Linked DNA regions of Homo sapiens: all the other regions are reported to be linked to region 2. Evidence: microRNA targets listed by miRTarBase, many of them from high-throughput screens and not tested one by one. Region 2 holds a microRNA gene; each other region holds the end of a gene's coding sequence.

The links. The annotated mature microRNA hsa-miR-3926 reads UGGCCAAAAAGCAGGCAGAGA and lies in region 2 at 1,340-1,360, opposite strand. An mRNA with a match to its seed (bases 2 to 7 or 8) in the 3' UTR can be bound and repressed. Matches are read on the target gene's strand: a 7mer-m8 pairs with bases 2 to 8, a 7mer-A1 pairs with bases 2 to 7 and ends in A, and an 8mer does both.
Region 1: the mRNA of GABRB2 is a reported target of hsa-miR-3926. Seed matches in the 3' UTR shown: 8mer at 882-889 and 7mer-A1 at 2,305-2,311.
Region 3: the mRNA of CDT1 is a reported target of hsa-miR-3926. Seed matches in the 3' UTR shown: 7mer-m8 at 2,628-2,634.
Region 4: miRTarBase lists ZNF736 as a target of hsa-miR-3926. Seed matches in the 3' UTR shown: 7mer-A1 at 1,657-1,663.

The regions. Positions count from the first base shown.
Region 1 is chr5:161,291,306-161,294,384 of GRCh38, reverse strand. GABRB2 (gamma-aminobutyric acid type A receptor subunit beta2) reads left to right here. Exons shown (of 10, transcript NM_001371727.1): 10 at 1-3,079. The coding sequence ends at 304. Among named protein-coding and RNA genes, the nearest start is that of GABRB2, 250 kb to the left of the region's middle.
Region 2 is chr8:12,725,507-12,728,601 of GRCh38, reverse strand. MIR3926-2 (microRNA 3926-2) reads right to left here and starts at 1,365; the gene lies at 1,303-1,365. LONRF1 (LON peptidase N-terminal domain and ring finger 1) reads left to right here. Exons shown (of 12, transcript NM_152271.5): 11 at 2,723-2,875. It overlaps MIR3926-1 (microRNA 3926-1), which reads left to right and starts at 1,298; the gene lies at 1,298-1,370. RefSeq lists an enhancer at 1,751-1,800.
Region 3 is chr16:88,807,951-88,810,998 of GRCh38, reverse strand. It overlaps CDT1 (chromatin licensing and DNA replication factor 1), which reads right to left. Exons shown (of 10, transcript NM_030928.4): 10 at 1,741-2,884. The coding sequence ends at 2,721. APRT (adenine phosphoribosyltransferase) reads left to right here. Exons shown (of 5, transcript NM_000485.3): 3 at 443-576; 4 at 851-929; 5 at 1,159-1,660. The coding sequence ends at 1,301. Among named protein-coding and RNA genes, the nearest start is that of APRT, 2.5 kb to the left of the region's middle. RefSeq lists an enhancer at 202-737.
Region 4 is chr7:64,348,749-64,351,843 of GRCh38, forward strand. ZNF736 (zinc finger protein 736) reads left to right here. Exons shown (of 4, transcript NM_001170905.3): 4 at 1-3,095. The coding sequence ends at 399. Among named protein-coding and RNA genes, the nearest start is that of ZNF736, 36 kb to the left of the region's middle.

The DNA of each region.
Region 1 (3,079 bases), not on the chromosome of region 2:
AAATGAAATGGCCACATCTGAGGCTGTGATGGGACTTGGAGACCCCAGAAGCACAATGCTAGCCTATGATGCCTCCAGCATCCAGTATCGGAAAGCTGGGTTGCCCAGGCATAGTTTTGGCCGAAATGCTCTGGAACGACATGTGGCGCAAAAGAAAAGTCGCCTGAGGAGACGCGCCTCCCAACTGAAAATCACCATCCCTGACTTGACTGATGTGAATGCCATAGATCGGTGGTCCCGCATATTCTTCCCAGTGGTTTTTTCCTTCTTCAACATCGTCTATTGGCTTTATTATGTGAACTAAAACATGGCCTCCCACTGGAAGCAAGGACTAGATTCCTCCTCAAACCAGTTGTACAGCCTGATGTAGGACTTGGAAAACACATCAATCCAGGACAAAAGTGACGCTAAAATACCTTAGTTGCTGGCCTATCCTGTGGTCCATTTCATACCATTTGGGTTGCTTCTGCTAAGTAATGAATACACTAAGGTCCTTGTGGTTTTCCAGTTAAAACGCAAGTGATTTTTACACATGGTGGCTAGACAGCCTGAGTGCTCCATGTTGTCTGTTTAGTATGCAGCCTACTCAGAGGGGAATAATTTGGAAGATATTCTTAGAAGGCTCAACAGCATTGTCAGTCATTTGGTCATAACCAGATACTCCTCATCTTCCTTTTTAAGGTCGGCATGCTGTTGAGATGGCATTGTCCTTATGAAACATTATCTGTAATGCCATGCAAACACATTACTTGAAGATGATCTATGATTTTCTTACTGAGATGATAATGGTGTCATGGGAAGATTATTCCCACTGGTTTCTAAAAGATTCTCTTGTGATTTGAGCAGGCTAGGGGAATCAAGACAGAGACTCAGGAAACCGATTTGGCCAGTCCCTTTGCTTGAGCACGGAGAATCAACTATGATGTCTTTCATTTTGGCATTTAGAGATGAGGAGACTTCTGGACAATATCATGCATGGTGGCCAAGAAAATTTTTGCTAAACGGCTATTTCCTAGGTGGTTAAAGTAAGAGTTAACAACACAGAGCAGAGTAGAAAATCAGAAACGACGGTTGTAACAAAAAGCAAGCAAGCAAGAAAGCATGACCCTTATCAGCTCCACACAGCATCTGGTCTATACATACTGTGTCTAGTGGCAGAGGGTGAGTAAGAGAGATTGTTTTTCCAACATCACTAGCTTTTGACAGCATACCTAAAGAGGTTTTTATAGTTTAATCGAAGATAACCATGAAATACAAAAATTAGAGAAATGAGAATTGTCTTAGATATTCAGGTTAGATTCAGAGTCATTCAAATATACAAATACAGAGCACAAACTAGCAAACAGATTGTTTTTCTCAGACGAAGTCAGCTGTCCCTGCAATTTTTGTCCCTATAATTTTATTTCTTAATTTAATAGAGTATTTCAAGAGAAGGATTTGTTCATCACTTTAAAGGATTCATGGTCCTCTCCAGCTTTTTTTTTGCTTCCAAAATTCTGATTATATTCTTAGGAGACTGGCAAAGTAAGGCTTTGGAGAGATTGAGTGAACTATATTTTCTTATATGCAATGAAATTCACCATTGTATTTTTCAAAGCAAATAATACTTCAAGGAGTATGAACACACAGAGAGTTAATTTGTGCATTCATTGGTTTGGGGCTTGATTTTCTTAAGAGTGCTTTCATTGTATATGTTGCAATCTGCCTAATCAAGGAAAATATGAAAACTAGTGGAAAATAATAACAAAGCCACATTAACATGATAAATGTTATGAGCCTCAGTTGATATTGCAGAAAAATATATAACTGTTAATCAGGCAGGCATGATGTATTTTTTTTCTATTTTTAAGTTATGCCATTGTGCTTCTTTCTACACTAATTGGACATAAGCATTCATATGTTGGACAAGAGGAGAATAAGCTAATATGTCTTCCTTCTATCAATATAAGGCTCATATTTTGCTTTTCTTATAGAAAATAGTGAATTGCTAAATTTTCCTTAAAGTTGAATTTGATTGAACTTTTTCTTGGAGGATGACTTTGCTATTTCTATTTTGAAAACAAAGAAAGCTCTTCTTTTTAGAGTAATATCCCTAATTGTGCATAGCAGCCAGTATCCACCTGTGAATAATGTATGTTTTCTTGATTCCTTGTTTCCTTCATGATTTAGCAGCTTGGAATATGATGGAGTACTATTGCCCTTGCATTCCAGCTGTCCAAGAACAACAACAAACCTTTATCCTTCAGCTTTCTGAATTTGCCCCAAAATGGAATGGTATTTTGTTTTTCACCAGTGTAGGAAACCTTGGCCATTATATTTTGATTACATAATCTTGAGCACCTCTGAGTATCATCTTTGGGCAGAATCTGACCAAGATTCTTCTCACAGGCTCAGAGTAGAGATTCCTCATGTTTCTCCAGGACACACTTTCTCCTAGGCAATCATTTTGGGGCATCACACTAAGTAAAGTGCCTGCCCCTTGTCAACAGGGGGTAAAGTTTGACTAAAAAACATCAGGAAGGAACATATTGATAACTCAGGGGCACAACTCCAAAATGCCATTCTGAAAAGGCTCTTCTAGAGTCAACTCAGAGCCCAAGTGTAGAAGTGGGCTCTTATGTGCAATCACTGTACAAGCCATAAAAATCTTTGATATTGCCATTTATGATTACAACAAAATTTTAGATGTCCAAGAAAGTCAACAGAACAATCCAGATCAAAGTGTAGAGAAGCATCTTTGCAGCTTGAGCCTCAAAAGCATAAAACCAGGAATTCATTTCTGCTCTCAGTGATACAAGAAACAAGGCAAAGGAAAAAAGATGGGACCTTAGAAGCAATGCCCTAGAGTAAAAAGCATACATTGGCACTCAGTAACCACAGAGATAGAAACAACTGACTCAGCCTCTCCAGAAATAACAGTAGATGTAGAATTTGTTCTTAAATATATGTTTCGTTGAAATGAAATGCAGTCATCAAATGCGAGGAGGGGTGCTAGACCTGATAAGTCTAGGAAGACCAGTCAGCTTGATAGCCAGTTGTTAAACTAAAGGACCACAAAGGTGTGTTTAGTAGTTCTGAT
Region 2 (3,095 bases):
GTACTTAACAATAGTGGTTGAATAAGTTGAACTTCCAACCCATCTAAGTTTTGAAAGGTTTACATTTCTGCCCTGTTTTATTGAATGTATTAGTAGTTGAAGCCGATGGAATTAGTAGATTGAAATTTGATGTAAATGTAAACACATCAAATCTTATAAGAATTGTTTTATATATTAAGATTGTTCTTGTGCCTAAGATAACCTTAATGATAAAATAGAGTTGAATGCTGTGTGAAGACCCTGGGGCAGACATAGAAAGCACTGCCAGTGTACATGTTGGTGATATCTTAACAGGGTAGGGTTTTTGTGATGTCTTTCTAGAATAGGGTTAATGTGGCCCTTTTGATGTTTGCAATACCCAGTTTACCTACTGCAGTTAGTTTAGGAACCGGAAAAGTGACTTATGATGCTACAAATACCAAATTGAAGGCAATTTCTTTTGGAAAGGCATTATAAAAACATAGATCTTATCCCTTCTCTTATTCATTGATCTGTTTAGGCCCTTCATTTCGTCAGCATTTATTGGATATTGGCATTAGGTATTTTCACAAACATTAACTCATAGAATTTTCACAACTCTATGAAATAGTAGATGAGGAAAGTACAATTCAGAGGTGTTAATTAATTTGCCTGAGAGCCTATAGATAATGTAACAAAAATGATTAAAGCAAACTGTCTGACTCAGACTTTGAGCTTTATCACTATGCCATTTGGCTCTCTGTTGATAAACCTGATTAGTCTGACGTTGGCAGTCCTATCTTATTATAAAAATGCTATGGGGGTACTTTGTCTTGTGCAGTTGGCCGAAAGTATTGTGTGAGTTGAAATTTTGAGTTGATTGATAGAATCTGTGCCTTAGGCATACTTGGTTAATGGAATCACTTGCTAAAGGTTCTTCTTTGTAAAGTTAATAACCATATTTCAGTTTTGTGTAAATTTATGTCTTCACTTATTGGATTTGATGACAAAATCACTTGAGTATATGGCTAAATTACATGACTATATGTATTAATACTTACAAACATGTAGGCAATAGAATCACATTCTAAAAGTATTACAGATATGATATTTATAAACGAGTCCTCTTTGGTCCTCGGAATGTCTAGTAATCTTTTCTCATCATGTCTTCATCTATATAATGATTTTCTTGTCCATTCTGGAAAACCTTCTCAAATTTGTTTTATATGGCAAATTTTCCTCTTCTTATAATAATTCTGTTTTCTGTGACTTCTAATGAAATTTTAAGTTCTGTTAAAATTATCACAGTAAAGTTCCTTGACTTTAAAAGCTTGCTTTTAAAATGGAGCTGGCCAAAAAGCAGGCAGAGACTTTAAAAGCGTCTCTGCCTGCTTTTTGGCCAGCTCCGTTTTTCATCACTGACGCTTATAATTGTTATCATTCCTTGTTTACCAGAGCCTGTCATTTGTTTTCTTGAATTTTGTGAGGGTGCAGAGCAGATGCTTTAAAAAAAAAAAAAAAAAAGATTTAACAAGGCATAAGTTTGTTTCTTGCTCCTATCAATGTATGTTAGCAGGGGCCTGAATCATGTATAGTCATTTCAGGACCAAAATTCTTCAATTGTGTGGCTCCTCTACCTTTTTTAAAAGTTTATTTTTATTGTGGTAAAATATACATAGAATTTACCATTTTAACCATCTTTGAGTGCACACAGTGGCATTAAGTACATTCACATTGTTATGCAAAAAACAGATGCTCTTTAAACTTTAGTTTTCATTTCAAATCTTTCAAAAGTAAAAAGTTTGCTTTTTTGTCTCTGGTGTGCTGTAGTCTTATTTTTATATTTCGAAATGTTTTCAGAGTCCCTTTGTTGTTTTTAAATGAGTCATCCTTGAAGTATGAAAGGCTGAGTCAGGCCTGGTATTTTTTCAGATGAGTTTGTGCATATGAGACAGAGCACGACCTGGCAAGTAGCAAGTGGGATGTAAGTGTGCATTAAAGAAATCAGTATAAGATGGATGAGTTAAACTTAGATCTTCCCACCTGTGTTCTCTGAGACTACTCTTCTATCTCAGGCTGGAAGCCTGATGCAATTAATTTTACATTTGCAGTTTGGTGACCCAGTAGTCTAAAGAATACACTGAGGGGTTCCAGAGGTAGCCATAGCCTTGGGCCTTGCCAGCAGAAGCTCATCATTGTGTAATTGACTCTCTGACATACTGGCTTTATATGCTAACTTATTTGTTGTAGCTTTTTGTTTGTTTTTGTGTTTTGACCCAGTTCCCTAGTAAAAGATGTAACTGTGCCTGGACTCCTCCTGTTACTACTTTCTGTCATGTCATCTACACCCTAACTACTTATCTTTTCTTTTTTTGTAGCAACTATCATCCACTTTTTTGTTCCACTGCTTTCAAAAACCATTGATCCATAAAGACAAATGGAATTCCAAATTAGACCTCTGAACCAGAACTCACTCTCAATCTTACTCTTCCCACTTGAGGGCTGTTGTAGGGTTCTGCAATATTGCACTGCTAAGTCAGCAAGGTTAGGCATAGGTCAGGCCTTGTTGTCTTTCTTTAGTCTGGTCAGCCCTATATGAGACAGAAATGTGTATTAAAGCATAGGAATAATACTCTCTGGGACGTCAGCACTGAAACAGGTATTGCCCTGTTCTTCTGATCCCTTTTTCCATTTGTGTCGGTTGGCATATGGCATATGGACGGGGGATTAGACACAGAAGTCTTACTGACTATTGTATTTCTAGGTTGAGAATGAAGATGAGATTAAGAATCTCAGAGAGCTTCATGATTTGGTTTACTCTCAAGCCTGCAGCTGGTTTCAGAATTTAAGAGACAGATTTCGAAGCCAAATTCTTCAGCATTTCGGATCAATGCCCGAGAGGGAGGAAAACCTTCAGGTATGGTGGCTTTTCTGTTCTTCCAAAAGTCACTTTTTTATAAACCCAAATTTGCACACTTCTACATTTGTTTTCTCATTGTCCTTTCTGCACTACTTTTTCTTTGACTGTCCCCTCCCCCGCACCAGCCCCACCTCATCTTTGCAATCATGAGTTCTCTAGAGCAGTGGTCTCCACTACATTCCGTACAGATAGAGGCTGGAAATACGTGTCAGCTGAG
Region 3 (3,048 bases), not on the chromosome of region 2:
TCTCACCTCCTGCAGGAAGCCCTCCCTGACCTCCTGCCAGGCCGGGGCAGGGTTTCCCTGAGCGTCCCCCAACCATCACAGCTCAGGCCACCTCGAGAGACTCCCTTTTTAGACAGAAGCCCTGGTGCAGAGCTGCCTTTGAGAGTAAGCTGAGGCCTGTCAGGTTTCTACCAGCCCAGTTACAGATGGGCTGCTCAGCTCAGAGAGAGGGGTGGTGACTCCCCTAGGAACACACAGCTAAGAAGTGGTCCCTTAAAAGACAGACCCAGGTCTGCACTCTGACCTGGAAGCAGCTCCGGGTAGGTGATGGGTAACATTCCTTAAATGGTGCATGTCACTGGCCTTTCAGCTGGGAGCCAACCAGGTACCCCTTGCCACCGGCCAACCCTGGCCCCTGGGGATTCCCATGCTGCCGAGTCACTCCTGTCACTTACCCTGACAGGCCTAGACTCCCGAGGCTTCCTCTTTGGCCCCTCCCTGGCCCAGGAGCTTGGACTGGGCTGCGTGCTCATCCGAAAGCGGGGGAAGCTGCCAGGCCCCACTCTGTGGGCCTCCTATTCCCTGGAGTACGGGAAGGTAAGAGGGCTGGGGTGGCCAGAGGAAGGGCAGGGCCAGGCCACCGTGGCCACTCTCCCCCAGTTCTAAAAGGCCTTCCCAGGCGTGTCAAGTGGAGCTGCTGTGGTTACAGTGGCCTTGGGAGCTCAGAGAGGTTGAGACATAGGCTGGGCTCACACAGCCAGGTAACAGCAAGGTGGGGTTGGAGTCAGGGTCTAGGGTGGCAGCTGCCAAGCTGTGCAACAAAGCTGTTTTCTGCGGGAGGCTGAGGACCACACACCACTTCCCACTCCAGGCTGAGCTGGAGATTCAGAAAGACGCCCTGGAGCCAGGACAGAGGGTGGTCGTCGTGGATGATCTGCTGGCCACTGGTGGTAAGGGTCTCCCCGCAGCCAACTGCTGTGGCTCCAAGGGCCTGGTGGGAGTGGGACAGGACCTCGCTGTGTGACATGGGATGCAGCTTACTGTTGTCCAGAGGGTGCCTGGTGGCCAGGCCGACACCTTCCTCTCCCCATGCCTTCCCCTCCCCAACCCAGGGGCTGGCCTGGAGCACCTGCTCTCTGCAGCCCAGGCCAACTGGGGACCTCACCCTCCCATCCCCAGGAACCATGAACGCTGCCTGTGAGCTGCTGGGCCGCCTGCAGGCTGAGGTCCTGGAGTGCGTGAGCCTGGTGGAGCTGACCTCGCTTAAGGGCAGGGAGAAGCTGGCACCTGTACCCTTCTTCTCTCTCCTGCAGTATGAGTGACCACAGGGCCTCCCAGCCCAACATCTCCAGCTGGATCCCAGGGAAATATCAGCCTTGGGCAACTGCAGTGACCAGGGGCACCGGCTGCCCACAGGGAACACATTCCTTTGCTGGGGTTCAGCGCCTCTCCTGGGGCTGGAAGTGCCAAAGCCTGGGGCAAAGCTGTGTTTCAGCCACACTGAACCCAATTACACACAGCGGGAGAACGCAGTAAACAGCTTTCCCACAAGAGCCGTCTCCTGTCCTCCTGTTCCCCAGGGCAGGGAGCCCCAGGACAACACCAGACTTCAGCTGTACTGTGGGCATGTGCTGCTTGGCGTGATGCCCAGCAGAACCTGTCCTGGTTCTCACCTCAGGAGCTAGAACCCTCCAGGCACTGCAGGAAGAGGCCATGTGGGCCCATCTTCTAGGGGAGCAAGCGAGGGCTCTTCTGCAGATCTAGTGGCTGTAAGCATGACTTTATTAGAGTTTAGGAGGTCAGAAATACTGAAGTCAAGGTGTGGGCAGAGGCCAGTCCCTTCTGGAGGCTCCAGGGATGTCCTACTTGTCCTGCCCAGCTTCTCCAGGCTGCCTGTGTCGGGGCAGGGCCGCGTCTTCAAAGCTGGCTGGCTCTGGCCCTGTCATGAAGGCCCTGTGATGACATGGGGCGTAGCTGGACAATTCAGGATCACCTCTCCAGTCTTGAAATTTTTTTTTTTGAGACGGAGTCTCGCTCTGTCACCCAGGCTGGAGTGCGTGCAGTGGTGCGATCTTCGCTCACTGCAAGCTGTGCCTCCTGGGTTCACACCATTCTCCTGCCTCAGCCTCCCTAGTAGCTGGGACGACAGGTGCCCACCACCACACCCGGCTAATTTTTTGTATTTTTAGTAGAGATGGGGTTTCACCATGTTCGCCAGGATGGTCTCGATCTCTTGACCTCGTGATCTGCCCACCTTGGCCTCCCAAAGTGCTGGGGTTACAGGCGTGAGCCACCACACCCACCCCAGTCTTTCTTAATGACAAAAGTCACCCTTTGCTGTGGGAGGTCCCATATTCAGAGGTTCCAAGATTAGAGGGGATGGCCTGCCACCCACACTACCCAACCCCATATTGCCACAGAGCCCCCTTCACCCCCAGCCACACTCCCGATGGCCCCCCAGGGGGTGCTGGATCTGGCTTCCCTTCCCCACCAGCAGCAAGGACAGAGGTGCCCACAGAAACCGGTTTAATGTGAATCCACCAGGTGAGCCCCATGAAGGGGCCCACCGCCCGCAGCCAGAGACCCTCGGGCTGTGCAGCCTGCAGCCCACATCTGCCTCTGGCCCTCAGGGGCGCTGGGGAAAGGAAGGCCAAAGTGTATCATGTTCATAAAAGAAAATGCTGGTGGGCCCAGGCCAGCGAGCTTCTGAAGCCCACGTCTGTCCACAGTGGCCCCCAGGCTCACAGCCCCTCCTCAGCACGTGTCTGGTGGGCCAGGCGTGCAGTGATGTGGGCGAGGTCCGCGGCCTTGTCCAGCTTGACGTAGGTGTCGGTGCGGATGCGGTGGAGGCTGAGCCAGTCCGGCAGCAGCTCGGAGAGGAGCAGCAGGTGCTTCTCCATTTCCCCTGGGGGAGGAGAGGAGGACACTGAGGCTGGTGCTGGGCCCCAGCCCTGCACGGGCAGCACTTGAAACCAGCCTGACCACCCAACCTCTGTGCCTGCCTGGTCGCCCTCAGGGCCCCATCACCAGGACTTAGGGCAGAGGTGGTTCTGATCAGAGGCCCAGGTC
Region 4 (3,095 bases), not on the chromosome of region 2:
TGGTTCTCAGACCTTGCTAAACATAAGATAATTCATACTGGAGACAAACCCTACACATGTAATGAATGTGGAAAAGCTTTTAAGTGGTTCTCGGCCCTTAGTAAACATAAGAGAATTCATACTGGAGAGAAACCCTACATCTGTGAAGAATGTGGCAAAGCCTTTACCCGCTCCTCAACCCTTTTTAACCACAAGAGAATTCATATGGAAGAGAGACCTTACAAATGTGAAGAATGCAGCAAAACCTTTAAGTGCTTCTCAGACCTGACTAATCATAAGAGAATTCACACTGGAGAGAAACCCTACAAATGTGAAGAATGTGGCAAAGCATCGAGCTGGTTCTCACACCTCATCAGACATAAGAGAATTCATACTAGAGAGAAGCTCCACAAGTGTTAAAAATGTGGAAAAGCCTTTACCAAGTCCTCATACTGTGTTCAACATCTGAAATTTAATACTGAACAAATGCAGTATAAATGTAATGACAGTGGAAGAACATTTATCATCTTAGAGGGTCTCTAAGAACTTACTTTATAATCTGGTTGCTTATATGTTGGGTACATATATAGCCCTTTGCTATTATGTAATGCCCTTTTTTTTTAAATCTATGTTAATTTCAAGTCTGTTTTGTCAGAAACTAGGATTGCAACCCCTGCTTCTTTTCCTGTTTTCTATTTGCTTGGTAGGCTTTTCTTTTTCCCTTTATTTTGAGCTTATTTGAGATGGGTGTCTTGATTAAAGCATACCATTAGATCTTGATTCTTTTTTCAGCTTGCCATCTGTGCTTTAATTTGGGTATTTAGCCCATTTACATTTAAGGTTAGTATTCATATGTGTGGATTGGATTCTGTTATTAGGATCTTAGCTGGCTATTTTGCACATTTGTTTCTGTGGTTGCTTTATAGTGTCCACAGTTTGTATACTTTAGTGTGCTTTTGTAGTGACTGGTAATAGTCTTTTTCTTATTTAATGCTTTCTTCAGAAGCTCTTTTAAGACAGATCCTGTGGTAACATTTTCTCAGCATTTGCTTGTCTGAATAGGATCATATATATTTTTTACTTCTGAAGCTTACCTTGGTCAGATATGAAATTCTGTGTTGGAATTCTTTTTTTAAGAATGTTGAATATTGGCCCCTATAATCTCTTTTGACTTGTAGGATTTCAGCTGAAAGATTTGTTGTTTTCCTGATGAGCTTCTTTTTAGAGGTGACCTGGCCTTTCTCTCTAGCTGCCTTTAACATATTTTTTCTTTCATTTTGACCCTGGAGAATCTCATGATTATGTGTCTTGAGGATGACCTTCTCCTGGGGTATCTTACTGGGGTTCTCCACATTTCCTGCATTTGAATGTTGGCCTCTCTAGGTTGGGGAAGTTCTCATGGATGTTATCCTGAAATACGTATTTCAAGTTGTTTTCATTCTCCCCATCACTTTCAGGCAATCTCTTGCATCATAGATTTGGTTTCTTTACATAATCCCATATTTCTTAGAGGTTTTGTTCATTCCTCTTTATTCTTTTTTCACTGTTCTTGTCTGTCTGATTTCAGAAAGCCAGTCTTGAGGCCCTGAGATTCTTTCCTCTGCTTGGCCTATTCTGCTGTTAATATATGTGATTACATTATAAAGGTTTTGTATTGTGTTTTTCAGTTCTATCAGGTTGGCCACATTTTTTCTCCAGACTGGCTGTTTTTTCCGTCAGTTCCTGCAATTTTTTTTCCTCCCTTGCATTGGGTTGCAAATTACTTTTGTAACTCAGTGAAGTTTGTTTCTACCCATATTCTGAATTCTACTTCTGTCATCTTAGGCCTTGCTGGAAATGTAATTTGGTCATTTGGATGAAAGAAGTCACTCTGGCTTTTTGTGTTTTTATCTTTGCACTGATTGTGTCTTATCTTTGTGGGCATATCTTTGAGGTTGCTGACCTTTGGGCTTTTTTTTTTTTAATCCTATTTGATGGTCTTGAGTATTTGATTGTGGTATAAGATGGATGCAGCCAACAGGCTTTGTTCCTGGGAGGTTTTTTTTGTTTTGTTTTGTTTTGTTTTGTTTTGTTTGGTGGTGGTGGTGGGTGGGCAATGCTCAGCTCACAACTCAGAGGCTGCATACTCTAACTCCGGGGGACTTGTTTTGAGCCCCAACTGTGTTCTCTGGCTCCTTGAGATTTGGAGTTTGCGAGTTTGTGGGATGAAGGTGCCATAGCTGGAGCAGAGTGCTAGTGGATATGGGATTTCTGCCTGTCTTTGGGTACTCACCTCAGTGGCAGGAGCAAAGCAGCTGGGAAGGGAGTGGGGGATACCTGCTGGAGGCTGTGTGCTGTTGCACTAAAGGTGGTGTTGGCTTGGGGCAGGATACTGGCCAGTAAAGGTTTTGATGCCTTCTCTGTGCCCCCCAAGAAAGAGTGATTGTTCAGAGTGTGGGAGGTTACCCTGTTCTCTGCACAGTGTTAGCACAAAGGCAGGGGTGGAGTTTTCTGGCTCTCTGCCCACCAAAGTTTCATCTACAATGGCAGTTGCTGGGGGTGGCGGGGCATATTGCATTCCCATTTGCTGGTGGGGCAAGCAAAGCCAAACCTGCCTTTGCAGACATGTGCCAGCAAAGAAATATCAGGAGTTGCCATGGTGTCACGGGAAGCTGCAGTATGGGGAAGAAATGTGGGCTGGTGCAGTCATAGGGGCTGCTTTGCTGGAGCTCTTCATGAGTCAGGCATGTCCCTCCAGTGCAGATGCTCTGGTATGAGCTTCCAGGGTACCTGAGACTGCCCTGTAAGCAGCTGTGGCCAGACTGGGTCCCTGGGAGAGGCCAGCAGACCAAGGAGTGCTCAGTTGGACCAGCTTCTTCTGATTTGCAAGACCATCCTGCAGAAATTAGGCCCAACAGTTCCCGTAGGGCTAAAGTCTCTTATGGGAGACAGTTGAGCCTAGAGAAATGGCCATCACTGGCCACACTTTACTACAGATGCTCTTGCACCAAACCCTCTGGCCACCACATGAGCTGGCTTGCTGCATTATCTCTTTGCTTGTCTTCTGGGGGCTGCATCTCAGAGAGATGTAGGTCAGCAATTACTCAGTGCAGCCAGCCCAGGATGGAAGATCTTTA